2 linked regions of the Homo sapiens genome follow. The protein of the gene in region 1 binds, or shares a complex with, the protein of each later gene. Each region holds a gene or a part of one and is shown on either strand. Other genes may lie near its edges. The genes, in order: ZNF541 and DNTTIP1.

What was found.
Region 2: ZNF541 (region 1) and DNTTIP1 share a complex: the UniProt entries of both Homo sapiens proteins name them as parts of the histone deacetylase complex.

The regions. Positions count from the first base shown.
Region 1 is NC_000019.10:47,564,991-47,580,354, reverse strand, and holds the start of ZNF541 (zinc finger protein 541), read left to right. Parts: upstream 1-7,206; 5' UTR 7,207-7,272; intron 7,273-7,322; exon of another isoform or gene 7,323-8,312; 5' UTR 8,313-8,459; intron 8,460-10,572; exon of another isoform or gene 10,573-10,601; intron 10,602-13,613; exon of another isoform or gene 13,614-13,734; intron 13,735-15,364. UniProt on the Homo sapiens protein: Transcription regulator which is essential for male fertility and for the completion of meiotic prophase in spermatocytes.
Region 2 is NC_000020.11:45,798,582-45,813,363, forward strand, and holds the end of DNTTIP1 (deoxynucleotidyltransferase terminal-interacting protein 1), read left to right. Parts: intron 1-2,492; coding exon 2,493-2,561; intron 2,562-2,820; coding exon 2,821-2,877; intron 2,878-3,417; coding exon 3,418-3,476; intron 3,477-4,751; coding exon 4,752-4,797; intron 4,798-6,564; coding exon 6,565-6,623; intron 6,624-6,724; coding exon 6,725-6,785; intron 6,786-10,532; coding exon 10,533-10,604; intron 10,605-12,303; coding exon 12,304-12,359; intron 12,360-12,475; coding exon 12,476-12,614; 3' UTR 12,615-12,837; downstream 12,838-14,782. Other genes in the region: UBE2C (ubiquitin-conjugating enzyme E2 C), read left to right, coding at 14,115-14,215. UniProt on the Homo sapiens protein: Increases DNTT terminal deoxynucleotidyltransferase activity (in vitro). Also acts as a transcriptional regulator, binding to the consensus sequence 5'-GNTGCATG-3' following an AT-tract.

The sequences.
Region 1 (15,364 bases):
CCAATAAGAACTACACATATGACAGAGGTCCTGTAAGATTATAATACTGTATTTTTACTGTACCTTTTCTTTTTTCTTTTCTTTTCTTTTCTTTTTTGTTTGAGATGGACTCTCGCTCTATCGCCTAGGCTGGAGTACAGTGGCGAGGTCTCGGCTCACTGCAGCCTCCGCCTCCCAGGTTCAAGTGATTCTCCTGCCTCAGCCTCCCAAGTAGCTGGGATTACAGGTGCCTGCCACCACACCTGGCTAATTTTTGTATTTTAAGTAGAGATGGGGTTTTACCATGTTGTCCAGGCTGGTGTCGAACTCCTGACCTCAGGTGATCCACCTGCCTCGGCCTCCAAAGTGCTGGGATTACAGGCATGAGCCACCACGCCTGGTCTACTGTACCTTTCTATGTTTTGATGCACAAATACTTACCTTTGTGTTTCAGCTGCCTACAGTATTCAGTACAGTTGCATGCTGCATGTTTGTAGCCTAGGAACAATAGGCTACACCATACAGCCTAGCTGTGTGCTAGGCTATACCATCTGGGTTTGTACAGCTTACGACGTTCACGCAACAAGGAAAAAATCACCTGAAGATACATCTCTCAGACAGATCTCCGTTGTTAAGTGACACAACTATACATTTGTCAAAACTACAAAAACATTGGCCAGGCTCGGTGGCTCATGCCTAAAATCCTCATACTTTGGAAGGCCGAGGCAGGCGGCTCACCTGAGGCCAGGAGTTTGAGACCAGCCTGGCTAACACAGTGAAACCCCGTCACTACCAAAAAATAAAAAATGTATAAGCCAGGCATGGTGGTGCACTTCTGTAGTCCCAGCTACTCAGGAGGGTGAGGCAGGAGAATGGCTTGAACCTGGGAGGCGGAGATTGCAGTGAGCCCAGATGGCACCACTGCACTGCAGCCTGGGCGACAGAATGAGACCCTGTCTCAAAAAAAAAAAAAAAAAAAACACACACACACAAAACAGGCGGGGTGCAATGGTTCATGCCTGTAATTTCAGCACTTTGGGAGGCTGAGGCGGGCGGATCACCTGAGGTCAGGATGAGTTCTAGACCACCCTGGCCAACATGGTGAAACTCCGTCTCTACTAAAAGTATAAAAATTAGTTGGGTGTGGTGACGGGCGCCTGTAATCCCAGCTACTCTGGAGGCTGAGGCAGAACCTGGGAGGCGGTGGTTGCAGTGAGTCAAGATCATGCTATTGCACTGCAGCCTGGGAGACAGAGCCAGACTCCATCTCAAAAAAAAAAAAGGCTGGGCGTGGTGGCTCACGCCTGTAATCCCAGCATTTGGGAGGCCGAGGCCGGCAGATCACGAGGTCAGGAGATCGAGACCATCTTGACTAACACGGTGAAACCCCATCTACTAAAAATACAAAAATTAGCTGGGCGTGGTGTCGGGCGCCTGTAGTCCCAGCTACTCGGGAGGCTGAGGCAGGAGAATGGCGTGAACCCGGGAGGCGGAGCTTACAGCAAGCTGAGATTGCGCCACTGCACTCCAGCCTGGGCGACAGAGCGAGACTCTGTCTCAAAAAAAAAAAAAAACCCCAAAAAGTGGATACATTACTATTAACTAAATTCCAATCTTTGTTGAGATTTTTTCTTTTTTTTTTTTGAGACAGTCTTGCTCTGTTAACCAGATAGGAATGCAGTCCTGAGCTAAAGCAATCCTCTCGCCTTAGCCTGTGGAGTAGCTGGGACCACAGGTGTGTGCTACTATGCTTGGGTAACTTTTAAAATTTTTTCGTAGAGACAGGATCTCACCAAGTTGCCCAGGGTGGTCTTGAACTCCTGAGCTCAAGTGATCCTCCTGCCTTGGGGTCCCAAAGTGCTGGAATTACAGATGCCTGGCCTTTGTTGGAGATTTCTCTAGTTTTTTAAGTAATGTCTTTTTTTTTTTTTTTAGATGAAGTCACTGTCACTCTGTTTCCCAGGCTGGAGTGCAGTGGCACCATCTCAGCTCACTGACAGCAACTTCCACCTCCCAAATTCAAGCGATTCTCCTGCCTCAGCCTCCTAAGCCTTAGCTGGATTACAGGTGCCTACCACCATGCCCAGCTAATTTTTATATTTTTAGTAGAGATGGGGTTTCACCATGTTGACCAGGATGGTCTCAAATTCTCGACCTCAAGTTATCCACCTGCCTCGGCCTCCCACAGGGCTGGGATTACAGGCGTGAGCCACCATGCCTGGCCTATTTATTTATTTATTTATTTATCTTGTTCCAGGATTATTCAATCCAGAATCCAGGATCCAATCTGTTTCTTTCCTTTCTTTTCTGTTCTTTTTTTTGCTATTACAAACATTGCTGCTTGTTCTTCTGTTGCATCTCTTGGCGCACATGATCAAGAAGTTTTCTAGAGTTAACCCCTGGGTTTGTCAGTGTGGTTCTACCAATTTTACCTGTCACTAGTCCTGTATACTCAGTTCGTCTTGCTTCAGCAAACAGAAAAAAAAAAATGTTTTTTGATTCACCGAAGTGGTAGGTGTGCTGCGGTATCTTTGGTTTTAATTTGCATTCTCTTGTTGTTGTGGTTAGTCCTCACTTCATGTTTCCTCTTGTATGAAGTGCCTCTTCAAATCTTATATTCTTTTTTTTTATTAGGTTGTCACCTTAATTTGTAGGCCTTTAAAATAAATGCTAAATGCTTTTTTTTATTTGAGACAGAGTCTCGCTCTGTTGCCCAGCCTGGAGTGCAATGGTGCGATCTCGGCTCACTGCAGACTCAACCTCCCAGGTTCAAGCAATTCTCCTGTCTCAACTTCCTGCGTAGCTGGGATTACAGGCACGCACCAGCACACCTGGCTAAGTTTTGTATTTTTAGTGGAGATGGACGTTTCACCATGTTGGCCAGGCTGGTCTCGAACTCCTGACCTCAGGTGATCCACCTGCCTTGGCCTCCCAAAGTGCTGGGATTACAAGCATGCTTGGCTAATGCTAATTTTTTGTTTATGTGTTGCATTTATCTTCTGTGTCCATGAAGTGTTCAATGTCTATCAATGACAGAAGATGCTAATTTATTTCAGGAGCTTAAGTCCTGTTTTTTAACTAGATTCTCATCTGTCCAGTGGCTAGGATCCTTATTTCCTCCATCAAGAAGAGAGATTACATGGCTGAAACAAAGCATTTTTAAAATGTGTGCTAAATAAGCGAAAAAAAAAAAGAAAACAAGAAAAAGAAAAGAAGGCCAGGCACAGTGGCTCTCACCTGTAATCCTAGCACTTTGGGAGCTGAGGCGGGTGGATCACGAGGTCAGGAGATGGAGACCATCCTGGCTAACATGGTGGAACCCCGTCTCTACTAAAAATACAAAAAATTAGCTGGGCGTGGTGGCACGAGCCTGTAATCCCAGGTACTTAGAAGGCTGAGGCAGGAGAATCACTTGAACCCAGGAGACAGAGGTTGCATTGAGCCGAGATGGTGCCACTGCACTCCAGCCTGGGTTACAGAGCGCGACTCTGTCTCAAAAGAAAAAAAAGAAGAAAAAGAAAAAAGAAAAAAAGAAAGAAAATAAAAGAAACAAACAAAAAACCCCACAAAACAAAAAGTGTGCTAAATAAAGGAAGAACCCTCTGAAATTGTTTCCAGGAGTTTAATTCCTGCCTTAGCATGACCTGTAAGTCCCTATGCCATCTGCCCCTAGTTTCTTCACTCACGTGGTTCTGGCCACACTGGTCTCTCTTCTTCTGATTTTTTTTTTTTTTTTGAGACAGAGTCTCACTCTGTTACCAAGGATGGAGCACAATGGCGTGATCTCGGCTCACTGCAACCGCTGCCTCCCAGGTTCAAGAGATTCTCATGCCTCAGCCTCCCGAGTAGCTGGGACTACAGGTGTGCACCACCATGCCCAGATAATTTTTTGTATTTTTAGTAGAGATGGGGTTTCAACATGTTGGCCAGGCTGGTCTCGAACTCCTGGGCTCAAGTGATCAGCCTACCTGGGCCCCCCAAATTGCTGGGATTACAAGCATAAGCCACCATGCCTGGCCTCTCTGCTGTCTTTCAAAAGGGTTCCACATCTTCCTGCCTCAGTGCCTGTGCACGTGCTGTTCCCTCTCTTCTTCCCCCAGATATTTTCATAGGACCCTTCCTTACTTCCTTCAGATCTCTGCTCAATGCAATCTCACCAGAGAAGCCTTTACTGACCTGTATAAAACAATACCCTCTGACCCCATCCTCTTTCCTTTGTTTTTCTTCAAGGTATAACATACTGCATTATAAATGTATTTGCAGCCAGGCACGGTGGCTCACTCCTGTAATCCCAGCATGTTGGGAGGCCAAGGCAGGAAGACTGCTTGAGCCTAGGAGTTCAAAACCAGCCTGGCCAACATGGCAAAACCCTGTCTCTACTAAAAATACAAAAAATTAGCTGGGTGTGGTGGTGCAGGCCTGTAGTACCAGCTACTCAGGAGGCTGAGGTGGTATAATAGCTTGGGCCCAGGAAGTCAAGGATGCAGCGAGGCATGATTACAACAATGCACTTCAGCCTAGGTGACATAGTGAGACCCTGTATCAAAAAAATACAACAAAAAAAGTAAATGCATTTGCTTGTCCCCCTGTAGAGGTATGCTGTCAGTACCAGAGCCACTCGCTACAAGGTTCCATGGAGCCCTGGAAATGTGGCTGGTCTGAATTGAGATGTCCCGTGAATGTAAAATACTGTATATGTGGGGTTTTAAAGACAGCCCCAAAAGTGTAAATTATCTCTTAGTTTTTATACTGATAATGTGTTGAAATATTTGGGATTAAATATTACCAAATTAATTTCACTTGTGTTTCTTTCTCTTTTATTTTATTATTTACTTTTATTTATTTGATTTTTAGGTTTGGGTGTGTTGCCCAGGCTGGTCTTGACCTCCTGAACTCAAGCAATCCTCCTGCCTCAGCCTCTCAAAGTGTTGAGATTACAGGTGTGAACCACCACACCCGTCCCAAGCCATTTTTTTTTTTTTTTAAGAGAATGGGTCCCACTATGTTGCCCAGGCTGGTGCAGTGGCTCTACACAGACAGGGCCATAGCTCACTGCAGTCTCCAACTCTTGGGTTCAAGTGATCCTCCTGTCTCAGCCTCACAAGTAGCTGGGCTACAAGTGCCAGCCGCCACACCTGCCTTCTTTACATTTTGTTCCTTTTAAACATGGCTACTAGAAAATGTAAAATTACATAAGTGGCTGGTGCTTGAAGTTTGCATTTTATTACTACTGAACAGCACTGCTCTAAAACATAAGTTCCAGGAGGAGAGGAATGTCTGTTTGACCCAGACACTATATCTGAGCACCTAGAACAGAGACCCAATAAAAACTTGCTAAATGAAGGGATCCTAAAGCAAGATGACAGGCCCTCTTCTTTCCTCTGTTTCCTCCCCCAATAATCAATTAAAAAAAAAAAAAACTTTGAGGTATAATTTACATAAAAGTCACTCACTTAAGTGTATACTTACTGATTTTTAGAAATTTACTGAGTTGTGCAACCATCACCATAACCCTTTTTTTCCCCCATCAGAGTCTCGCTCTATCCCCCAGTCTGGGGTGCAATGGCCTGATCATATAGCTCACTGCAGCCTTGGACTCCCAGGCTCAAGCGATCCTCCTGCCTCAGCCTCCCAAGTAGCTGGGACTACAGGCGCATGCCACCATCTCCAGTTAATTTTTTTTTTTTTTTTTTTTTAGAGACAGGGTTTCACTAGGTTGCCCAGGTTGGTCTCAAACTCCTAGGCTCAAGGGATCCTCCTACCTTGGCCTCCCAAAGAGCTGGGATTACAGGCGTGAGCCACCACGCCTGGCCCATAGCTCAGTTTTAGAATATTTCCATTACCCAGATAAGATCCGCGATGCCCCTTTCCACCCCGGGCAACCACTAATCTGCTCTCATTCTCCACAGATCTTCAGCACTCCGTTTCTAAGGAATGAATTATCTGCCTCAGTTGCAGGACAGTTCAAACCCCTTGGCCAGGTCGGGCACGGTGGCTCAGGTCTGTAATCCCAGCACTTTGGGAGGCAGAAGCAGGCGGATCACCTGATCACCCGAGGTCAGGAATTTAAGACCAGCCTGGCCAACATGGTGAAACCCCGTCTCTACTGAAAATACAACAAATTAGCCGGGCGTGGTGGCACGTGCCTGTAATCCCAGCTACTCGGGAGGCTGAGACAGGAGAATCGCTTTAACCCGGGAGGCGGAGATTGCAGTGAGCCGAGATCGCACCACTGAACTCCAGCCTGGGCGGCAGAACAAGACCCTGTCTCAAAAAAAAAAAAAAAGAAAAAAAAGATGGTCCTTGGCCAGTCGGCACCAGGGCCTACCGCCCTTCCCAACACAGCTCAGCACGGAGCAGGGGCCCCAGATGGCTCAGCCTTTCCCCAAAGAAGGGAGGAATAGGCTGGGCGCGGTGGCTCTCACCTATAATCCCAATGCTTTGGGAGACTGAGGCAGGAGGATCGCTTGAGCCCAGGGGAACCAGGCTAGCCTGGGCAACATGGCGAGACCTTATCTCTAAAAAAAATGTAAAAATTAGCAAGGTGTGGCGGCGCCCGCCTGTGGTCGCTGCTACTCAAGAGACTGAGGCAGGAGGATCGCCTGAGCCCAGGAAGGGGAGGGTGCGGCAGCCGTGATCGCAGCCTGGGGAACAGGGAGAGACCCTGTCTCTGAAAAAAATTTTAAAAAAAGGGAGGAGCAGCTCGCCCCACATCTCCCCCACCCAATGACGCAGAAGAGACCCTGAGAGACTCCCGCGCTCGCGACAGGGTCCTCGGAAACAGACGATACGGCCTCCCAGCACCAGGACGCTGCTCAGAGGCCCCTCCGGGGACTGGGGGCAGCCATCCAGCGGCCGCCACCGCGTTCTAACACCGCCCACCAGGAACAATGGCTGGAGTGGAGGCTCCCGGGACTCTCGGCCTCGGGATGCGGGTCTTGGGGGACTGGCCCCTCCCCCCGCCGCTCCTCCCCGGCTCACTCTTCTCACTCTCCGCCCTCAACCGCCCCCTCCCAAAATGGCGACCAACCGCCTCCTTTCCCGCCCGCGGCAAGCCCCGCCCCTCGGAGAAGCAGCCGAGAGCGCGCGGCCAGGAGGCACGCGCGAGGCCGCTCTGGGAGGCGTGAGGCGGCCCGCGGTCACGTACGCGCGCCTGCGCCGCGCGTGAGCGAGGAGATCCGGGGGTGGGCCGGGCTGCGCGTGCGCCCCGGGCGGCGCGGGGAAGGCGGGAGGCCGCTGGGAGCCCCGCGAGGCGCCAGGCGCGAGGCCCGGCGCGCGAGCCCCCGGGGGCGGGTAAAACCCGGTTGCTGCTGCCCCTGCCCCTCCCTTTCCTCCTTATCCCCCATTACTATTATTTCCTCTTTTTTCAACCCCTCCCCCTTTTTACAATCTCATTCGTTTCTTGATTTCTTTTTTTAGGGGGCCCCATCTGCCTTTCGAGGGGCGCAGCAGGCGCGGCGGGCGCCCCTCACCCTGCGTCACGCACGCATCTTCTGCAACCCAACAGCTCCGGGCCCCGCTGCACCCCACAGGCCCTTCCCCCTTGGAGAAGACCCTCCTCAGGATCCCCTGGCCCGCTGCACCCCCTTTTCTTTCCCACTCCGTCCCCCCGGGCCTCAACTGCCCCCTCGCAGCCCCCCAGCTCGCGCCGCGGGCCCTACCCGACCTCCCCACCTTCTGCATCTGGGCCTTGCATTCGCTAGCCTCTTCCAGGCCCCTTCTGCTCAGAATCCCCCTTCCTCCTCCATAGTCCCACTTTGGGGCACCCAGATTTATCCCTTTTTAGGATCTTCCAGCAAAACTCCAAATCTCTCCTCCTTTCCTTGACATGCCCCTCCCCCTCCTTTAAGTAACTTCCCTTAGCGCAAAAAAAGAAAAAAAATTAACCCAGTTTTTTTTCATCCGTTCAGGATCACTTTCCAGCAAAATTTTTTTCTTCACACCTAGAGTGCCCCTTTTTGGAATATCTTCGCTTAGAACAAACCAACTAATTCCTTCCAGTTTCTCTCTCGTCTAATATTTATGTTTCCAGTCCTCCTCACCTACCCCCAACTTTCCAGCAAATATCCTTATTTTATCACCAATTCTGCCCTAATTAAGTTTCTCCCGGTAAAATTCTCTAGGTCTCTTCCCACGGGGGAAAAATAAGGAAAGAAGGAACAATTATTTCTTCTTACCAAAAAAACCTTTCCTCCTCACTCAAATCTCCGCTGTTGATACTGCTTTCTGCCTTCTTCCAAAAATTGTTGCTCTTCTCCATTTTCACATCTCTGTTCTTGTTTCTTTGGGACCCAAGTCCTGACTGCTTCTTCCTTCCCACCACCTGCTTTCAGGGCAAAAGAAATTGGGAGTATCCTGCATTTACCACTCAGTGTTCCAGGAGGACATATCCAGTGGTCTGCTTGTCACCTGAACCCCCTCCCTGTGGGGCCTAAACTGGGTCCTCCTGTTCCCTGGAGATTCACTAACTTGCTCTTCTGGTGAGTTTCCTTCCTTTGCACTGAGCCAAAGACACCTGCTTTGTTGGATAGATCTCGTTCTTTCTCAAGAGGGTTTCTAAGCAATACCAAAGTCCGTACTAATGGTAATCATACAAGTTACTGCTTTGGAGAAGTCAAACAGGGAAAAGGGCTATTTATTGTGCATGTTGACCTGTTAGGAGGAGTGCAGACATAGATTGATGTGTGTTTCTTTATTGATGTTTATTGCAAAAAACGTTTTTCCTTCCCTAGCTCAGGGTGGCAACTCAGATACTTACAGGTAAGGCACAGGTAAAGGGAAGAAGTAAGGATTGTCGTGAAGCAAAGATTGTATGTCCCATCTAAGTGATGCCAGGCAGTGGAAATGCCAGGCCAGTGTTGCCAGAACTTTCGATTTCTTTGAGAAGAGGCCAGAAAACTATCCTTAGGTGAAACCTTCTGATTTTTAAATGCTAGCAACACATTTGATAATTTAAGAATTAAATAAGACAGCGTAGGCTGGGCGCAGTGGCTCATGCCTGTAATCCCAGCACTTTGGGAGGCCGAGGCGGCTGAGGAGTTTGAGACCAGCCTGGCCAATATAGTAAAACCCTGTCTCTACTAAAAATACAAAAAATTAGTTGGATGTGGTGGCAGGCGCCTGTAGTCCCAGCTACTGGGAAGGCTGAAGCATGAGAATCGCTTGAACCTGGGAGGCGGAGGTTGTGGTGAGCCGAGATTGCACCACTGCACTCCAACCTGGGCAACAGAGCGAGACTCCGTCTCAAAAAAAAAAAAGACAGCATAGGGAACTTATAAAATATGCCTGCCGGCCACCACTTTGGAATTTTCAGTTTCGGGTTTCTTTCTTTTAGATGCGTGTCTGCTTGGGCACATGTGTATGTGGACATGCAGGACTTTTTCTTATTGGAATAGTAGTTCTCAAACTTTTTTTTTTTTTTTCTTTTTGAGATGGAGTCTCTCTCTGTTTCCCAGGCTGGAGTGCAGTGGTGCGATCTCGGCTCACTGCAACCTCTGCCTCCTGGGTTCAAGCAATTCTCCTGCCTCAGCCTCCCAAGTAGCTGGGACTGCAGGCGTGCACCACCACGCCCAGCTAATTTAAAACTTTTGCTCTTAAGACCCCTTTGCACTTAAAAATTATTGAAGGCTGTAGAGAATTTTTGTTTATGTAAACTTTATCTACTGGCATTTGCTGTATTAGAAGTTTAAACTAATCAACTTTCAAAATGTTTATTAATTGATTTTAAAAGGGCAGTAATAAACCCATTATATATAAACAAAAAAACAAAATGCGCTTTTTTTTTTTTTTTTTTTTTTTTAGGACAGAGTCTTGCTCTGTCGCCCAGACTGGAGTGCATTGGCACTATCTCAGCTCACTGCAAACTCTACCTCCCAGGTTCAAGTGATTCTCATGCCTCAGCCTCCTGAGTACCTGGGATTACAGGTGCCCACCACCATGCCCGGCTAATTTTTGTATTTTTAGTAGAGACGGGTTTTCACCATGTTGGCAAGGCGGTCTCAAACTCCTGGCCTCCAGTGATCTGCCTGCGTCAGCCTCCCAAAGTGCTGGGATTACAGGCATGAACCACCACGCCCAGCCAAAATGGACTTTTTTTTTTTTGGAGATGGAGTCTCGCTCTGTCGCCCAGGCTGGAGTGCAGTGGAGTGATCTCGGCTTGCTGCAAGCTCTACCTCCTGGGTTCACACCATTCTCCTGCCTCAGCCTCCCGAGTAGCTGGGACAACAGGCACCCGCTACCACTCCTGGCTAATTTTTTGTATTTTTAGTACAGACAGGATTTCACCGTGTTAGCCAGGATGGTCTCGATCTCCTGACCTTGTGATCTGCCCGCCTCAGCCTCCCAAAGTGCTGGAATTAGAGTCGTGAGCCACCGTGCCCGGCCAGAGAAAATGACTTTACCTTCTGGTTAAAATTAGTTATTGGTTACATAACTATAAGACTATAGGAGGGAGTCTTTGTGCTTTGTTTTGCTCTTTTCTTTTCTCCTTTCTTTTCTTGAGACAGGGTTTCGCTGTTTGCCCAGGCTGGAGTGCCGTGGTGTGATCCTGGCTCACTGGAGCCTCGACCTCCCAACATCAAGCAATCCTTCTGCTTCAGTCTCCCGAGTAGCTGGGACCACAGGTGTGCACCACCACACCTGGCTAATTTTTGATTTTTTTTGTAGAGATGGGTGGGGGGCGGCGGGGATCTCACTTTGTTGCCCGGGCTGGTCTTGAACTCCTGGACTCAAGCAATCTTCCTACCTAGGCCTCAGAAAGTGCTGGGATTACAGGCGAGAATGACCTTGCCCAGCTGGAAGTCTTTCTTGATTGTTCTACTTAAGAATGTAGGCACGAGTGTGAAGCAGGAGTCCCAGTCTCAAGTGTGTGATAAAAGCATAGTGGAGCGGGCAAGCGTAAGGGTTTCGAAATTAGACTACCCAGGGTTGAATCCTAGCTTGGTTTTGGGCAAGTTACTCAACTTCTCTGGACTATTTACCTCATTGGTGAAATAGGGTTAATAATACAGTATATGCCTCAAGTATTGTGGGAATTAAATACGATGACATACAAGTGATTACAAGAGTACCTGGCATGTCATAAAGCCTCAATAAATGTTCACTGTTATTATTATTATTATTATTACAATGATGAATATTATAAGGGCCAGGCAGGAAGATAAGTGAGGGCTGGGAAAACTGGAGACCATAAGCCCTTTCTAGAGATGCCATTTGTCCCTCAGATCTACCTCGTTGTTAACTGTGAAGGAATATCAAATCTAATCATTTTCAAAAGAAACCAGAAATCCATATAGGAAGGTGAAATCTCCCCATTAAAAAAAAATGTTGATGACTAATCCAATTTGTAAAAATACTGTGTAGGCCAAACAAAATGGGTCTATAGTTTACAATAATATTTGGAGTGGAGGCTGGGCACAGTGGCTCACGCCTGTAATCCTAGCATTTTGAGAGGCCGAGGTGGGTGGATCACGAGGTCAGGAGTTTGAGACCAGCCTGGCCAACATAGTGAAACCTCGTCTCTACTAAAAATACAAAAATTAGCCCAGTGTGGTGGTGTGCACCTGTAGTCCCAGCTACTCGGAAGGTTGAGGAGGAAAATCACTTGAACCCAGGAGGCGGAGGTTGCAATGAGCCAAGGCCACGCCATTGCACTCCAGCCTGAGTGACAGAGAGAGACTTCAACTCAGGAAAACAAAAAAAATTGGAGTAGGAAAGTAAGGAAGGAAATTGCAGGCCGGGTGCAGTGGCTTGCACCTGTAATACCAGCACTTTGGGAGGCTGAGGCAGGTGGATTGCTTGACGGCAGGAGGTCGAGGCCAGCCTGGCCAACATGGCAAAACCCTGTCTCTATTAAAAATACAAAAATTAGCCAGGTGTGGTGGCACATGCTTGTAAACCCAGCTACTCGGGTGGCTGAGATGGGAGAATCGCTTGAATCCGCGAGGTGGAGGTTCAGTGAGCCGAGATCACGCCACTGCACTCCAGTCTGGGCGACAGAGTAAGACCCTGTCTCAAAAAATAAAATAAAATAAAATGAAGGAAATTGCATAGCTAGGGTGAAAGCTGCAAGTCTGTCTGCTCAACTCCCAGGAACCTGCTGTTACTCAGACTTGATGACCCTTTCCCTGGTAACATGGATGCAGGGAGAGAAGGGAGAAGGTGGTGCTTAGGAGGTGGGGGGTGTGGTGGCAGAACAGTGGTTGGAGCTTTTCAAAGAGGAAAAGAGGTGGCACAATGGAATTCTGTCACTCATGAATGAAAAGGATGCTCAGAGCCTTCTGTGATCAAAGTTCTGTGCTAGGCAAGATACTGTGAGAAGTTTAGACACCTAAGGCCGAGTCCCAGCCATCCTAGAGCTGAGAGTCTGGAGAAAATGGGAGAACTTTAAAGATAATTAACTTCCTAGATAATTTAGAGTAAATGTTAAGTGGATTGTTACACAAGTGCTTGTCAGGGTTCAGAGGAGGGAGAAATTAATCTCAGACTTTGTTATGTTGGAAGTGTTCTCTATAGTGGAGGTGACATTTAAGCCTGAGTTTGGAGGGTTTCATTTGGAGGGTCATAAACTCAGATGCCTCCAGAGGCCTGGCAGGGCACAGAAATCAGTGAGCTGAGAGAATAGGGAGTGGTGGGGGCTTCTCACCTCCAACCAATTGTTGCCTTGCAGGAATGTGGACTCAGCATTGGCAGATCTTCTGATTTTTTCTTTCACATTTTTAAATAGAAGTTGGAAAGCCTAACTTGAATGAGAAATCCCTAGATTTGCACCATCTGATATGGTAGCCATTAGCCGCTTGTACCTGTTTAAATTTAACTGGCCAGGCGCGGTGGCGCACGCCTGTAATCCCAGCGCTTTGGGAAGCCGAGGAGGGCGGATCATTTGAGGTAAGGAGTTCGAGACCCAGCTTAGCCAACATGGTGAAACCCCATCTCTACTAAAAATACAAAAATTAGCTGGGCATGATGGCGGGCGCCTGTAATCCCCAGCTACTCAGGAGGCTGAGGCAGGAGAATCACTTGAGCCCAGGAGGTGGAGGTTGCAGTGAACTGAGATTGCACCACTACACTCCAGCCTGGGTGACACAGTGAGACTCTGTCTCTAAATAAATAAATAAATAAATAAATTTAACTAAACTTAAATAAAATAAAGAGTTTAGTTCCTCAAGGGTGTTAGCTGCATTTCTGTGTATGTGGCTAAAGACTGCAGTATTGGGCAGTGCAGGCTTAGTAGCACAGAAAGTGCTTTTGGATAGTGATGCTCTAGTGCTCTATCCATCTATTTTTCTATTATTTATTTTATTTTATTTATTTATTTATTTATTTTTGAGATGGAGTCTCGCTCTGTGGCCCAGGCTGGAGTGCAGCGGCCTGATCTTGGCTCACTGCAAGCTCCGCCTCCCGGGTTCATGCCATTCTCCTGCCTCAGCCTCCCGAGTAGCTGGGACTACAGGCACCCGCCACCACGCCTGGCTAATTTTTTGTATTTTTAGTAAAGACGGGGTTTCACCATGTTAGCCAGGATGGTCTCAATCTCCTGACCTTGTGATCCGCCCGCCTCAGCCTCCCAAAGTGCTGGGATTACAGGTGTGAGCCACCGCACCTGGCCTTATTTTATTTATTTATTTATTTTTGAGATGGAGTCTGGCTTTGTCACCAGGATGGAGTGCAGTGGCATGATCTTGGCTCACTGCAACCTCCGCCTCCCAAGTTCAAGCAATTCTCCTGCCTCAGCCTCCTGAGTAGCTGGTACTACAGGTGAGTGCCACTATGCCGAGCTAATTTTTGTAGTTTTGGTAGAGATGGGGTTTCACTATATTGGTCAGGCTGGTCTTGAACTCCTGACCTCAGGTGATCTGCCTGCCTCAGCTGTCCAAAGTGGTGGGATTATAGGTGTGAGCCACCATACCTGGCCCCATCTATTCTTTAACTGGATAACTAATGGAAACATATTTAAATATATTGCAGACTAAATAAAATATATTTGTAAATCAGATGGGCATTCAGATTGTTCCCTCCCCTCCAAACAACACACATAGTAAATATTATTTATCTATTGTGGACTTACTTCTACAGTCTAGAATCTCATGGTAGGTTACCTTCCCAAAAGGTCGTAGCATTTCATAGAAGAATCCTTTGTTTCCCCTCACCCCCACCAGTCATGGAATGATGGCCCCTTTAAATTTTATTTTATTTTTTTTTGAGATGGAGTCTCACTCTGTCACCCAGGCTGGAGTGCAGTGGCACAATCTTGGCTCACTGCAACCTCCGCCTCCCGGGTCCAAGAGATTCTTGGGCCTCAGCCTCCTGAGTAGCTGGGGTTACAGGCACCCACCACCATGCGCGGCTAATTTTTGTATTTTTAGTAGAGACGGGGTTTCGCCATGTTGGCCAGTCTGGTCTCGAACTCCTGACCTCAAGTGATCCGCACACCTCAGCTTCCCAAAATGCTGGGATTACAGACGTGAGCCACTGCGCTGGGCTGATAGCATTTTTTTAAAAGAAAAAAAATTAAAATTGCTTCGGATCCCCAATGTTGACTTAAATTGTTTTAAAACTATTAAGGCATCAGTGATGATAGAACAAGACATAAGTTCCTAAAGTGTATAGCTCCTGTGCAGCTATAAAGCCAAAATCAATTTGCAAATTAAATATAAACAAAGCAACCAAACCGATTTAATTTAATGAGAGGGATACCATTTCCTGAAACTTACCTGCTCCTTGAAACAATTACTTTGCCGACTGCCACTCTGGGCCCTTTTGGGTTTAGCAGGCCCTGTGAGGTCTCAATTCTCCCATCCCTTGTCTCAATTTGAACTGCAGCAAAACTTCCATTTGTACCGTGATGCCAGCTGGCCTCTAGTAGAGCCCGAAGGCATTATTATGAACTAAATCCCCCTCCATCCTCTTCTTTTTAGCCTGAAGCAATTAAGTAGTCCTTTTTGGCATGAGTGCAATCATAAACACACCCAGGCATTGAAACCACATGGTAGTACTCGGTTACAAGGGAGTCCTCTAATGATCCAGATGTACTGGGTTTTTCTTTTCTTTTTTCTTTTTTTAGTTTTTTATTTCCATAGATTTTGGGGGAACAGGTGGTACTCGGTTATATGAGTAAGTTCTTTAGTGGTGATTTGTAAGATTTTAGTGTACCCATCACCCAAGCAGTATACATTGAACCCAATTTGTAGTCTTTTATCCCTCATCCCCTCCCACCCTTTCCCCCCAAGTCCCCAAAGTCCATTGTATCATTCTTATGCCTTTAATCCTCATAGCTTAGCTCTCACTTACAAAGTGAGAACATACGATGTTTGATTTTCCATTCCTGAGTTACTTCACTTAGAAGAATAATAGTCTCCAGTTCAATCCAGGTTGCTGTGAATGCCAT
Region 2 (14,782 bases), on another chromosome or scaffold:
ATACTCTGGCTGTTCTGAACTCCTTTCTGCTCCTCCAGCACAAGCTTAGGCCATTTCACTTGCTGTTCTTAGTACCTGGGGTACTCTACCCTTAACTCTATAAAGCCGGCTCCTTCTTTTCTTCAGATCTTAGTTTAAATATCAGAGAGGTCTTCCCCTCGCACTCCTACCTCTGCTAAAATCTTGAGCTTTACAAGAGTTGAGGCCTAATCTTGTTCACCACTGTATTCCCAGCCCTGGAATATGACTCTTAGTATGTGTACAGAGTTTGCTGAATTATTGAGTAAATGAAGGAACAAACAAATGATAAATGAACAAACAAGCTTCCTGCTCTAATAGAACTTAACAGCCTACTTAAGCAGACAGGTGTGAATTAGATTACCAACAAATGTGTGCATAATTACACATTGAGACTTGATCACCCTTCACTGGAAAGGGACAAAGTTTGGAGGAGAAGAGCATGAATCCAATTATGGATTAGCAGCTTTGAGCCATCCAAGCATAGACATGGGGCAGACTATTTGGTATATAAGTCTAGAGCTCAGAGGATAACCTTTTGTCTACAGTTGAATTATGGAATCGTGGTTTATAGATGTTAATTGAAGCTGTGAGAATAGGTGAGAGCAGATAGAATATGTAATGAGAGAGGATAGGGAAAAGAACCAGATTGAGAAGGAAAAGCCAGCAAAGAAGGCTAAGAAAGAACGGCCAGAGAAGTAGAAGGAACACAGGAAGTGTGGCCACAGGAGCCTGTAGAAAAGAGTGTTTCCAGAAGGGGGAGCCCTCAGCACTGTCAAATGCCACTGGCAGAGGTCGGGTGAACCCAATTCTCCACCTGCTGCACCATCTCCCCTCTGCCCATTCCATCCTTTTCTTTGTCAAATGAGCCAGGTGTTCCCACCTTTGAGCTTCTGCACTCCTCCCTGCTGCTGAAACACTTCTGCCCAGCTTTTTTTACAGCCTCCTTCACATCTCAACTCAGAGGCCACCTTCTGAGCAAGGCCTTCCCTGGCCATTCCCGCAAAGTAGCCCTTCCCCTCTGGTGGTTCTCTGTCACATCTGCCTGGGTTTTTTTCTTTTTTTCTCACAGCATCTATCATGATCCACAGTTACCTTGTTTGTTTCTGTGCTTATTATCCAGATCACCCACAAACTATAAGCTCCACAAGAGCTTGTCCTAGTTACTGCTGTGTCCACAGCACTTAGGTCCCAGGTACTCAGTATTTATTAAAAGAAAAACAGCAGGCCAGGCGCACTGGCTCACGCCTGTAATCCCAACACTTTGGGAGGCTGAGGCGGGCAGATCACGAGGTCAGAAGTGTGAGACTAGCCTAGCCAACGTGATAAAACCCCATCTCTACTAAAAATACCAAAAAAAAAAAAAAAAAAAATTAGCTGGGTGTGGTTGCACGCCTGTAATCCCAGCTACTCAGGAGGCAGAGGCAGGAGAATTGCTTGAACCTGGGAGGCGGAGATTGCAGACAGCCGAGATCGCACCACTGTACTCCAGTCTGGGCAACAGAGCAAGATTCCATGTCAAAAAAAAAAAGAAAAAAGAAAAACAGCAGCTTACTGAGGAGTATGTGTTATACTAATGTATTTAGTTTGAAAAAACATACAGTATGTATTTACATGGGAAAAGCAAGGAAGAATTTACATTGAAACATTAATAGTAGTTTATGTAATGAGATTCCAGGTTTTTCTTATTTTGCTTTTTTACATTTTTTAATTTTTCCAGCCATGATCATTAATTCAAGTTTTTTTAAAAATAGATATCTATTTCTATGCATATAAATATATATATGTGTGTGGCTGGGCGTGGTGGCTCATGCCTGTAATCGCAGCACTTTGGGAGGCCAAGGCAGGTGGATCACCTGAGGTTAAGAGTTCGAGACCAGCCTGGCCAACATGGTGAAACCCCGTTTCTAATAAAAATACAAAAATTAGCTGGGCATGGTGGTGGGCACCTGTAATCTCAGCTGCCTGGGAGGCTGAGGCAGGAGAATCGCTTGAACCCAGGAGGCGGAGGTTGCAGTGAGCTGAGATAGCACCACTGCACTCCAGCCTGGGCGACAAGAGTGAAACTCCATCTCAATTTAAAAAAAAAAAAAAAATATATATATATATATATATATATATATATATATATATATATATATATATATATATATATATTTGGAAGTGGGCCGATCACTTGAGGTCAGGAGTTCAAGACCAGCCTGTCCAACATGGTGAAATCCCGTCTCTTCCAAAAATACAAAAATTAGCTGGGTATGGTGGCGCACCCCTGTAGTCCCAGCTACTTTGGAGGCTGAGGCATGAGAATCACTTGAACCCAGGAGATGGAGGTTGCAGAGAGCCAAGATGGTGCTGCTGCACTCCAGCCTGAGCAACAGAGCAAGACTCTGTCTCCAAAAAAAAAAAAGGAAGTAGGTAGGGTGTGCTTACCCACCAAAATAGTGACTGGTAACACTTGGTCTTTTTCCCTTCAGGCTAAACTGCTCTTTTCAGATGGAGAAAAAGTAATACCCAGATTGACCCATGAGCTTCCAGGAATAAAGGTCAGAGTCACTGTGTTCTCGGGTATTGGAGCGGGAGGTCCTTCAGGCTGGGAGGCAAGTGAAATATGTGGGCCCAGGGAGGTTCCATGTACTTCCATTTGTAGGACCAGGCCCACACAGCATCATGCTGGATGGGCTTCTTTGGCCTGGGTCAGAGCGGGGCTGGAGAGCTGTAGTCCAGGGCTGTCTTCTGCAACTCCAGAAGACCTGCAGCTCCCAGGCACTGGCCTTCCACTGACTCCCTTCCCTTTTCTTTTAGCGTGGCCGTCAGGCAGAAGAAGAATGTGCCCATCGAGGAAGCCCCCTTCCTAAAAAGGTAAACCATTTCCTTGTTTTGTTTTCTGGCTGAAAAAAGGCTTGTCAGGCCGGGTGTGGTGGCTCACACCTGTAATCCCAACACTTTGGGAGGCCAAGCGGGGAGGATCACTTGAGCTCAGGAGTTTTGAGACCAGTCTGGGTAACATAGTGAGACCCTGTCTCTAAAATAAAAAAAAAATTAGCCAGGCATGCTGGCACATTTCTGTCGTCCTAGCTACATGAGAGGCTGCAGTGGGAGGATCACCTGAGCCCAGGAGTTCAAGGCTGTAGTGAGCTATGATCATGCCACTGCACTCCAGGCTGAGTAACAGAGTAAGACCCTGTCTCTCAAAAAAGGCTCTTCACTCCGCAAGGTACTGGGCTTCCTCAAAGCCCTTTTGAGCCTTCCTAGACATGAGAGGCAGTTTTTCTCCCTGTCCCTGTCAAACATCATTTGATCTCTTTGGAAAACCATCTCTGCCAAGTGACCCTGGACCTGCCAATGGGGTATGGGGAGTAACCACAGGGTCAGACCTCTGACAGCTGTTTTTTGTGGCAGAGGAAAGGACGGCCTCCTGGACACATCCTGTCAAGCGACCGGGCAGCCGCCGGCATGGTGTGAGTAGGGACCAACAGTGTGGTGAGAGCATAGGGGAGCAGACGGAGAGAGGGGCCCTGAAGGAAAAGAGTCCAGGGTTCTGTGCCTGTCAAAATCAGATCCATCAGCTTAAGTCATCGTGGAGGGGGGTTATCCTGGTTGGAGGGGTGAGGAAGGAGGGTAGTGAGGAGGAAATTGTTTTACCCCCTGAACGGTTTGGCCCAGCTTGATGAAAGATTAAACTCCAGAGGTTTGTCATTGTTAGTATATATTGGATGCTTATGACTGGTCTAAATACGTTACATACTTTACCTTTTAATCTTTATAGCCACCCTGTAAAGAAGATATCATTAATTTTTCAGATAACAGACTCAGAGAATTACTTGCCTAATGTCATATCGTTAACATTGCCTCCAAGACGGTCATTTTCAAATATATATTTTTTTAAGACTTAATTTTTTTAGAGCAGTTTTAGGTTCACAGCAAAATTGAGAGGAAGGTACAGACATATCCCGTATACTCCCTGACCCTACACATGCACAGCCTCCCCCATTATCGACATCAGGCACCAGAGTGGTACATTTGTTACATTTGATGAGCCTACTTTGACTCGTCTTGATCCTCAGAGTGCATAGTTTCCATGAGGGTTCACTCTTGGTATTGTACATGAACTTAGACAAATGCATAGTGACAGGCATCCACCATTCTAGTATCACACTGAGTGCTTTCAGTGCCCTAAAAATCCTCTGTGTTCTGCCTGTTCATCCTTCCTTCCCCCTCAACCAACCCCCAACCCCACTTTTTAAAAAAAATTCTGAAGCAGCAGAATCTTTTTCAAACAAAACTTTACATGGGAGCCCAGTATTTAAATCAAATAAAGCCACACTGGTCTGGTTCAGGGGCGTGGGGTTAGTTTGGAACAGCTGGCTTAGTAGATGGGCTAGTATTAACTGTCATACCTTAGATGTGTCTCCTACACGAAGCAGTTTTATTCCTCACAAACACAAGATAGGTAGGGCAGTTGCTGTTTTTGTCTCTTTTGACAGATGAGAAAACTGCCACTCAGAGGTTCTTGGAGTTGCTCATGCCACTATGTAAGAGCAGAGCTAGTGCTAGAATGGCTTCTAGTCCAGTGCTTTTTTTCCCTTTGTTCCTCCTCTTATGTGTCACCACGAAGGAGGATGTCCAGGGCTAAAGTGAGAGTGTGTGAGGAACTCCTACCACCACCAGCAAGCTGGCATTTAGTCCTAGGTCTCACCTTGGAGAATTCACCTTTATTCTTTCCTTCCAAGCAGATGGAAACCAAAATCCTGTGAACCAATTCGCCGGGAAGGCCCCAAGGTATGATTATGTGAGCATGGCAGAGATCACGATCCCAGGAGATAGTCCCACTATCTCTAGGACCCACCATGAGGGAAAGGGGCAGGGGGCGAAGGGTGCATGCACACCATTCCAGAGCCATCTGCCCCTCTCCACCTCCAGCCACACTGGCCTCAGAGAGGATCCTGTGTAGGAATTGGAGTTAGAGGCAAAACAAAGAGAGGGCTTGAGTCTTTGCTGAAGCCTTCTCCTTATAGGAGTTAGTGGTCACTAATACTGATTCAATACTTAGTATGTAACGGGCAGTGTCCTAAATCTTTTGTGTAGACCATCTCATTTAATCTTTATAACAAACTTATGAGATCAATTCTGTGAACCATTCTATAAATGAGGCGTTTCCTTTTCTGCCAGCTTCCCTGTGGGCATAAATTATTTTATTCAGTTGTCTTATACACTTAATGCACTTAAGACTTGCCCAAAGTCACATAACTCGTAAGTGATCGAGCTGAGTCTCAAACCCAAGACCCGCTGACACCAGAGTCTGTGCTCTCAACCATTAGCCTCTGTTGCCTCCCTCTCTCTCCTGAGTTCTTCCTCAGCAGTGACTTATATAAATGGTTGTTCCCCAGAATTCTCTCCTTGGCCCACTTCTCCATCTAAAGTAACTCTCTGGATAATCTAAAACATATACTCTTATGGTTTCAGGGACCACCATGTTCTAAAACTCCCATACCTCTTTGTCCATCCCATGCCTCTTTCTACTTTAAAACTTGTTTATCCTACTATCTGCTTGACCACTCTGCTGGAAGTTTCATAGGCATTTCAGACTCAGCATATCCAAACATGAAATTAGAATCTTTCCTCACAGCCCTTCTTTACATTCGTTATCTTAATCATCTTTGCCTCCTCCTCCTCTTCCTTACCTCCCTACACCCAGTCGAGTCCTGGACAATTCTTCCTCTTAAATATATTGCAGTTCCTATTTCCTTCTGTTCATCCTTACTGCTGCCCTAGCTCAGGCCCTTAGCAGCTTTCCAACTGCTTTATCACAGCGGCCTCTAAACTGCTCTCCCTGCCTGTAGTCTTGCCCCTTCAAATCCATTATCCACATTGCTAGAAGACTAAGCTATCTTTAAAGGAAATCTGACTCTCACTCCCTGTTTAGAGGCCTTCAGCGATTCCCCATTGCCTACAGAAGAAATAAAATGCAGTCCCCTGAACATAACCTCCTAAGACCTCCAACTCCTCTGTGTTTCTCTCTCCAGCCCCATCAGCTGCCACTCCCTAATTTGTACTCTCTCTGTTAGCAGCACAGAATTACTAGTAGTTTCTCCAGCAGGCCAAGCTGCCTCTCACCTGTCTTTGCTCATGCTGCCCCCTGTCTGGAATGCCCTTGTTCCTGACCCCCTTTACCCCAACTTGTGCTCACCCTTTCAGAATTAACTTGGGAAATGCCTCTCTAAGGAAGCCTTCCTGGCTGGACCCTCCCCTCGGCAGCCCTCAGACCCTGCACTCACTTGTGTCCTTGCCTCATCGCACAATGGTGTAATTATCTGTACATATGTTGGTGGCATCCTAGAAAACAGAGACTGTATCTTATTCATCTCTTTATCCCCAGTATCTAGCACAGACAGGGCCTAGCATATTGTGAGTACTCAGTGTCTTGGGTCAACTGTTGATTAAATAATAGACAAGGGGAAGGGTTAGAAAAGGGTAGGGGGAGGAGTGTTTCTGTCCTACCCATCAGATTAAACTTCACCCTCACGAGCTTCTCTATTTTTTGCACAGTGGGACCCAGCTCGCCTGAATGAATCTACCACCTTTGTGTTGGGATCTCGAGCCAACAAGTAAGTTTAAGAGCTTTGGCACTGATTGAGGAAACAGCTCAGGAGTTCACTAGTAGGACTACACTTTCTGGAATCTTGACCACTTGGCTTTTACTTTTCAGAGCCCTGGGGATGGGGGGCACCAGAGGAAGAATCTACATCAAGCACCCACACCTCTTTAAGGTAGGTGACTGCTGGGAGGAAAGCAGGCCATTGCATTGGGAGTAGACTGGGAACTCCACTCAGCACAGAGAAGCTTAGAACAAACACTGATCTTGGAGTCAGGACATCTGGGTTCTAGTTGTGCCTCTGCCATTCACCTTTCCCTTTCATGATTTACTCAACACCTCTGTGCCTCAGTAATAACAGCTACTTTGCTTGCATGCTTACTGGGTGCCAAACACAGTTTTAAATCCCACACTTATATTATCTTAAAAAATAAGTATTGCCATCCTTATTTCACAAATTTGAAACAATCAGAGGTTGAGAAAGGCTGAGTGACTTGCCCACAGTTATTCAGCTAGAAATGGTGAGTCAGGATTCAAATCCAGGTCTGTCCTCACCAAAGCCTGAGCTCTTAACCACTACCATATTTGGTTGTCTGTAAATTAGAGTTTGGGCCAGGTGCGTGAGCTCACACCTGTAATCCCAGCACTTTGGGAGGCCAAGGCGGGTGGATCACCTGAAGTTGGGAGTTCGAGACCAGCCTGACCAACATGGAGAAACCCTGTCTCTACTAAAAATACAAAATTAGCTGGCATGGTGGCTCATGCCTATAATTCCAGCTACTCAGGAGGCTGAGGCAGGAGAATCGCTTGAACCCAGGAGGCGGAGGTTGTGGTGAGCCGAGATCACACTGCCCTCATATTTGCATTTTAAAATAACTCTGGGGTCTGGCACAGTGGCTCACGCCTGTAATCCCAGCACTTTGGGAGGCTGAGGCTGGCGGATCACCTGAAGTCGGGAGTTCGAGACCAGCCTGACCAACATGGAGAAACCCCGTCTCTACTAAAAATACAAAAATTAGCTGGGCATGATGGCGCATGCCTGTTATCCCAGCTATTCAGGAGGCTGAGGCAGGAGAATCGCTTAAACCCAGGAGGCAGAGGTTGCAGTGAGCCAAGATCTCACCATTGCACTCCAGCCTGGGCAACAGAGCAAAACTCCATCTCAAAAAAAAAAAAATAGAGTTTGGAGCAAGGCAGGGTCCTGTGCCTTTTCAAAGAGGGTACTCCTCTTCTGAGAGCAGCTATGTTTTGGTCCCCACTGTTTGAGGGAATAATGGAGGAAATCATAAACTCACTCACCCTCTTAGATGATTTTGTATTTTATCAGTCACGAGAGCATCGAAGTAGATTAGAAGAATAGCAGTGCATGTGTGTTCCACACATGGTTTTTTGCACTTATACGTAAGGCTTGGCACCTCTTGCCAGAACTGCACAGCCCTGTGGGATCCCAGAATCACGGGCTTTCTCTACCACATTCTGTGCAAGTTTTCAAGTTCTTTGAAAGGCATACCTGCTCACGCTTCTTCTCCAGTCTGATATCCTCGAGTCCCAACACTTAAACAGTTTGCCCAGTGGCTCCTTTGTTTTCCTCTCTTAATGTCGTCACTCTTGCTATTCCCATTGCCTGGGTGGCCTTTCTCTCCCACCCTTATCTGCCTGACTATTCTTTAAGATCCACCTCCTCCAAGAGCTTTGTTTGTATCATCCCCAAAATCAATATGCTTTTGGACCTACTTTGAATTCCCACTTCAGCGTGGTTTAAAGTATGGCTTCAGGCCTGGTTCCATTATTTTACTAGCTGCATGAACTTGAACAAATGGCTCCACATTTGTTTTTCTTTTTTCTTTTTTTTTAACTAGCTCAAGTCTGGGAATTGATCCACATTTCTGAGTCTGTTTTTGTCCTGTATAAAATGAGAATAGTGATAGACCAACCATTTTTTTTTTTCTGAGACGGAGTCTTGCTCTGTCACCCAGGCTGGAGTGCAGTGGCGCGATCTCAGCTCACCGCATCCTCCACCTCCTGGGTTCAAGCAATTGTCTGCCTCAGCCTCCCGAGTAGCTGGGATTACAGGTGCCCACCACCATGCCCGGCTAATTTTTGTATTTTTAGTAGAGATGGGGTTTCACCATCTTGGCCAGGCTGCTCTCAAACTCCTGAGCTCAGATGATCCACAGCCTCAGCCTCCCAAAGTGCTGGAATTATAGACTTGAGCCACTGCACCTGGCCCAACTTTACAAATTCTCTATTAGTGATTATAAGTATCTTTTCAGTCATTTAGAATCTATTTGTATTTCTTCTGTAAGCTGCCTGTTATATCTTTTGCCCATTTTTCTCTCCTTCAGAAGGCATTATTCAAATTCTTTTCCTTTTTTAAATGTTTTGATTATAGAAATAATATATAAACCCATTCCCGTGGTAAAAAGATTCAGACGATACACAGGAGGTAGTAGAGAGCAAAACACAGTTTCTCAGCCAGGTGCAGTGACTCACGCCTGTAATCCCAGCACTTTGGGAGCCCGAGGCAGGCGGGTCACCTGAGGTCAGGAGTTCAAGGCCAGCCTGGCCAACATGGTGAAACCCCATCTCTACTAAAAGTACAAAAATTAGCCGGGCATGGTGGTGCACTCCTGTAGTCCTAGCTACTCTACTCGGGAGGCTGAGGCAGGAGAATTGCCTAAACCCAGGAGGCAGAGGTTTCAGTGAGCCGAGATCACGCCACTGCACTCCAACCTGGGCGACAGAGCAATACTCTGTCTCAAAAAATATATATATCAGTTTCTCTTCACTCCTCGATTTTTTTTTTAAGGTGCTTAAATTCTGGTTTCTAGGTGCCCAACCTAGAATAGAAACCAGAATTTAAGCCTTATTTGGGTTGAGCACAGTAGCTCATACCTGTAATCCCAACACTTTGGGAGACTGAGTGGGTGGATCAGTTGAGGCCAGGAGTTCAAAACCAGCCTGGCCAACATGGCAAAACCCCATCTCTACTAAAAATACAAAAATCAGCTGGGTGTGTTGGCACGTGCCTGTAATCCCAGCTATTCAAGGCTGAAGCAGAAGAATAGCTTGAACCCAGGAGGTGGAGGTTGCGGTGAGCCAAGATCATGCCACTGCACTCTAGTCTGAACAACAGAGCGAGACGTCATCTCAATAAATAAATAAACAGCCAGGCACGGTGGCTCACACCTGTAATCCCAGCACTTTGGGAGCCCGAGGTGGGCAGATCACCTGAGGTCGGGAGTTCAAGACCAGCCTGACCAACATGGAGAAATCCCATCTCTACTAAAAATACAAAATTAGCCGGGCGTGGTGGCGCATGCCTGTAGTGCCAGCTACTTGGGAGGCTGAGGCAGGAGAATCGCTTGAACCCAGGAGGCGGAGGTTGTGATGAAGCAAGATCATGCCATTGCACTCCAGCCTGGGCAACAAGAGTGAAACTCCGTCTCAATCGATCAATCAATCAATCAATCAATAAACCAACCAACCTTATTTGTAACTCCAAAACCGAATTCTTAACCATGATGCTATTATGCGTCCGAGAGTACATGAGGTGTCCCGATTTTTGTTTTATTATGGTCACCATAATAATTACAGACGTTATAAGCCACCTCCGATCATTTTTTAAAAAGAGGAAGCTCTAAAATAATAGTTATCAGTCCCACCAGTTGCCCGGGGTGCTTTGTTGTGAGAAGGGGGTGGGGATTGGGAGTATACTAAGTCTCTGGGAATTGGGTCCCATGGTCTGCCCTCGGGGTTGGCTTAGCTTTCTCTGAAGAGATTAGTGAGCCCTCTAAGTCCACCACGCTTGGAGACAAGGACTTTTGGTAAGAACTGCTCAAGGGCCAAGAGTATGCTCTGGGACCAAATGAGAAAAGCCCCTTACCCGAGGCTAATTTTCTTACAACTTCATTCCTTACAGTATGCAGCTGACCCCCAGGATAAGCACTGGCTGGCTGAGCAGCATCACATGCGGGCAACAGGGGGCAAGATGGTAAGCATTATTCATTTGTGCCACTGCCAGTGACCCACCCCACCTGGGAACCAGGATTTTGGCTGTGGGTGACAGCCTACCTCCAAATCTGACTTCCAAAGCCTCACCAATGTGTGAGAAGAGAGACTTATAAGGCCTATTTCTTCATGCTGAAGAGCAAATTGTAATCTTCAGGTTCCCTTCCCTATCCCTAGGTCTCCCTTCCGCCCCCTCACACTTTTACCTCATGCCTCCAAGATCACATATTTGGATACTATTAGCTGTCCATAGGAATAGCAGGTATAAGACACACAGTACTACTTTTTCCCACTACTGCACCCACTGACAGATTTCACTCATTGATCACTCTTCCACCAGACACAGCTATAGAATCTTTTCTCAACACAGTACTTGAGGCAGCAACCCTTGTCAGTAGGAGTTAGCAATGAAATGTGTTTGCACACTTGGCAGCCCCTTCCAGATTTACCTCTACTTGAAGAGTTCTCAGATCATATGAAACAGCAACCTTAGGAAAATCATCATTGCATGTGTTCAAAAACTATTGTTGAGGGCTTTGTCCATCACACACAATGTCCCCCACCTGAGGACTCACTCACTCCCACCACAGGTACTGCTCCTTTTAGAATCTAAGTGCCTTACAAACTGATATGCCATCTCCTTTCTGGCAGTGAGAGCTACCTTTTATTTTATTTTACTACTCTATTTATGCCTATGCTTTACTTCAAAAAAGATTTCAGGTAAGCTTCATGCACATAAAATGCAACATTACATAAATAAGAAATAGATGGTAGGGGGTGGGGGCAGGACCTAAAATTAAGCCACCAGTAAAAGTAGTTCTTTAAAAAAAAAAAGTGTTTTTTATATTGCTGACCTGGGAGACCTGTGCACTTCTACAGATGTTGGCAAATTCAGCTGTAGGCCCCACTCATGGACACCTGATCTGTTATGGTTCATAGTGCCCATAAGATGTAGACAAATTACTCAAGGAATACACAATTATTCCTGACCCTAACATTAGAAAGTCTCCCACAGAAGACTTTCTAATATGATGAATATCTCTTCCTATATGTTAAGTTCACAAAAGGGCCCTCACCCACTGTAGACCGAGGCATTGTGACAAAGCATTTCTACAGGCCCCAGTACAATACAGGCCAATTACTAGACAGCAGAGCAGTTTATCATGTTTTCCATTTTGCCACAAAGTTCAAAACCAAGTTATCTTTGTCCTCAGAGGGAGCACATGGTTTCCTCTTCCTGATTTCCTGTTTCCATATATATTTTGCTGGCTTTCTTGCCATTTTGTTATAACCCACCTTGGGTCCTTTCGTATACTTGATCTTAACCAAAAGGTGTAGGAGCAATGGTGGATCCCTTTTTTTTTCTTTTTTTCTTTTTTTTTTTTTTTTCTTAATTTTCACCACACCATTCAAGAGAGAAATGGGTCCTTTTTTAAAAGAGAAGGCTATAAATAAGTCACCAGTCCCTACTCTCCCATCCATGAAGCATCTACTGTAGTAAAAGATTGTCTCAAGGAACCATTCCCATCCCTCCCCACTTACTCTTCCGTACTAAATTGTAAACCGCATCCCCCGCTTCCACCTAGTAGCAGGCCTTACATTAAACAGATGTTTAATGAAGTGTTACTGAGTTGGAGTGAAATGAATCAGGCAATGACCACTCTCCCTTGCTCCTGCCTCAGGCCTACCTCCTCATCGAGGAGGACATCCGGGACCTTGCGGCCAGTGATGATTACAGGTAAAACCAGTGGGTCTCCTGCCCCTTCTCCTCTCCCTGCCTCCAAATAGCCCCTAGAATGAGGCAGGGCCTACATCCTCACTTCCCCCAACTTCTCTCTTCAATGTCTGTTCCAGAGGATGCCTGGATCTGAAGCTAGAGGAATTGAAATCCTTTGTCCTACCCTCCTGGATGGTGGAGAAGATGAGAAAGTATATGGAGACACTACGGACAGAGAATGAGCATCGTGCTGTTGAAGCACCTCCACAGACCTGAGGCCGGGTCCCCTGGCCACACTTGGCAGCCCTCCTCCAAAGCCCTCTTCCTCACGTGGCTGAGGCCACCGCTGGGACTGCTCCTAGATGGATCTCAGCGGCATTAAGCTGTGCCTGAGCGAGTTTGTAGTGACTCACTGCACAGCACCCCCAGACTAGCATGTGGTTCTATATTTGTAAAGTTATTGGGATAAGAAACAATTAAACAGTTTGTAGTAAACACAGATGGTGAACCTGCTGTGCCCTCTACCTTGTGGGAATTGACAGAACATCAAGGGCTCTAGAAGTGGGTGTAGGAAAAAAGGACGAGATAACCCTCACCCATAACAGTATAGAGCCAGGCTTGATAAGACCAACCTGGGAGCACCATGTACCCTGCCCGTCTTCCCTTTGCCCATTTGTAGTTTCCTTACCCAGCTAATGTAAGGACATGGCAGAATGCGATGGAGTTTGATGACAGATCATATGAAAAATAGAGTTGGCTTTTATTGCTCCCATTTTACAGGTTAAGATACTAAAGGACCCGCCCCAAGGTTACACACTACCCACTGGGGAGGTAGGATATACAGGATATGAACCTGTGTTGTTGGGGTTTTTGTTTGTTTGAAGACAGTCTTGCTCTGTTGCCCAGGCTAGAGTGCAGCCTCTGGCTCAAGCGATTCTCCCGCCTCAGCCTCGCCAGTAGCTGGGACTACAGGCTCGTGCCACCTCACCAGCCTTTTTTTTTTTTCTTTTCTTTTTTTTTTTTTTTCTTTTAAGTAGAGACAGGTCTCCCTATCCTGTTGCTCAGGCTGGTCTCGAACTCCTGGGTTCAAGTGATCCTCCTGCCTGGGCCTTCCAAAGTGTTCGGGATTACGGACGTGAGCCACTGCGACCAGCCTGAACCAATGTTGCCTTTTTTTATTTCTGTCATCTCTGCGGAGATGTATGGACCTATGTTTTCTAATAGGGAGCCTGCTGCTCTGGCCATCAGCCTTTAGTTTTTCCCCTCGCTGGGATTTTCAGATACTTAGGACGCAGCAAAGGTGCCCAGGCGATTATAATGGTGGGAGGGTACCAGTGCTGCAGGATTGGAGGCACTCCCTGCCCGAGGGAAATTGGATCAAGGCTGGGCGTGCCGAGTGTTCCCACGCGGAGTAAGACGTGTAGCCAGAAGGAGGGGTTCATCCCACGTGGACGTTTTCTTGGCCCTTTAATGGTTAGCGTTTTCCAACGGCCACCAATTCGCTACGGATTCGTTAGTTAATGGCAGCATCATCTACCAATCGGTTGTCAGAAGCGGGATTCTGCCGCCCAATAGCGGTGCGCCAGTGGGTAGGTCTAGCAGTGGCGCAGCAATAGAGCGCTCCGGAGCGTCTCATTGGCTGGATCAAACCCAAGCGAGCCATTGATTGGTCGACGCCCCCAGAGGGTTACAATTCAAACGCGGGCGGGCGGGCCCGCAGTCCTGCAGTTGCAGTCGTGTTCTCCGAGTTCCTGTCTCTCTGCCAACGCCGCCCGGATGGCTTCCCAAAACCGCGACCCAGCCGCCACTAGCGTCGCCGCCGCCCGTAAAGGAGCTGAGCCGAGCGGGGGCGCCGCCCGGGGTCCGGTGGGCAAAAGGTGAGTGATGCGGCCTACCACTCGCCGGGCCTGCCATGCCCTAGGCATTGGTACCCAGAGCAAAGATTTCTAGGACCACCCCCCGCCGCCACCTCCTGGAGCGGGAGATCTGCGGGTGCAGGAGAACACACCAGGAGCTCGGGGCCTGGCATTCCCCTGGGCATGGGTGTCGAGGGCGGAGACTTCCGGGACTCCCACCTCCTTGCGCGGGTGAGATTCGAGAGATGGGGGACAGGCCAGGAGCTCAGACCGCTCTTTGAGACTCTCCCGAAGGAGAATGGGAGGGTAGGGGCGCTGCCAGACTCCTTCCCTGGTGGGCCTAGATGAAGACGCTCAAGGACCCTCGTGACTTGGCCGAGACAGGGGAAGGGAGAAGTTGAGTCGGGCAAGGAAGAGATGCTAAAGCCTGGGGAATTAAGAACATGCCAGAATCATCCCGAGGGAGTCTGGAATTAGGGAGGGTGAGGACTCGCTAGGATCGTCCTGTGGATCTGGTGAGTATACCCTGAGCTGAGCCTGACCTTGGTGATGTGGGGAGCCTCCATGACGGCTCCCCCTGAGATTCAG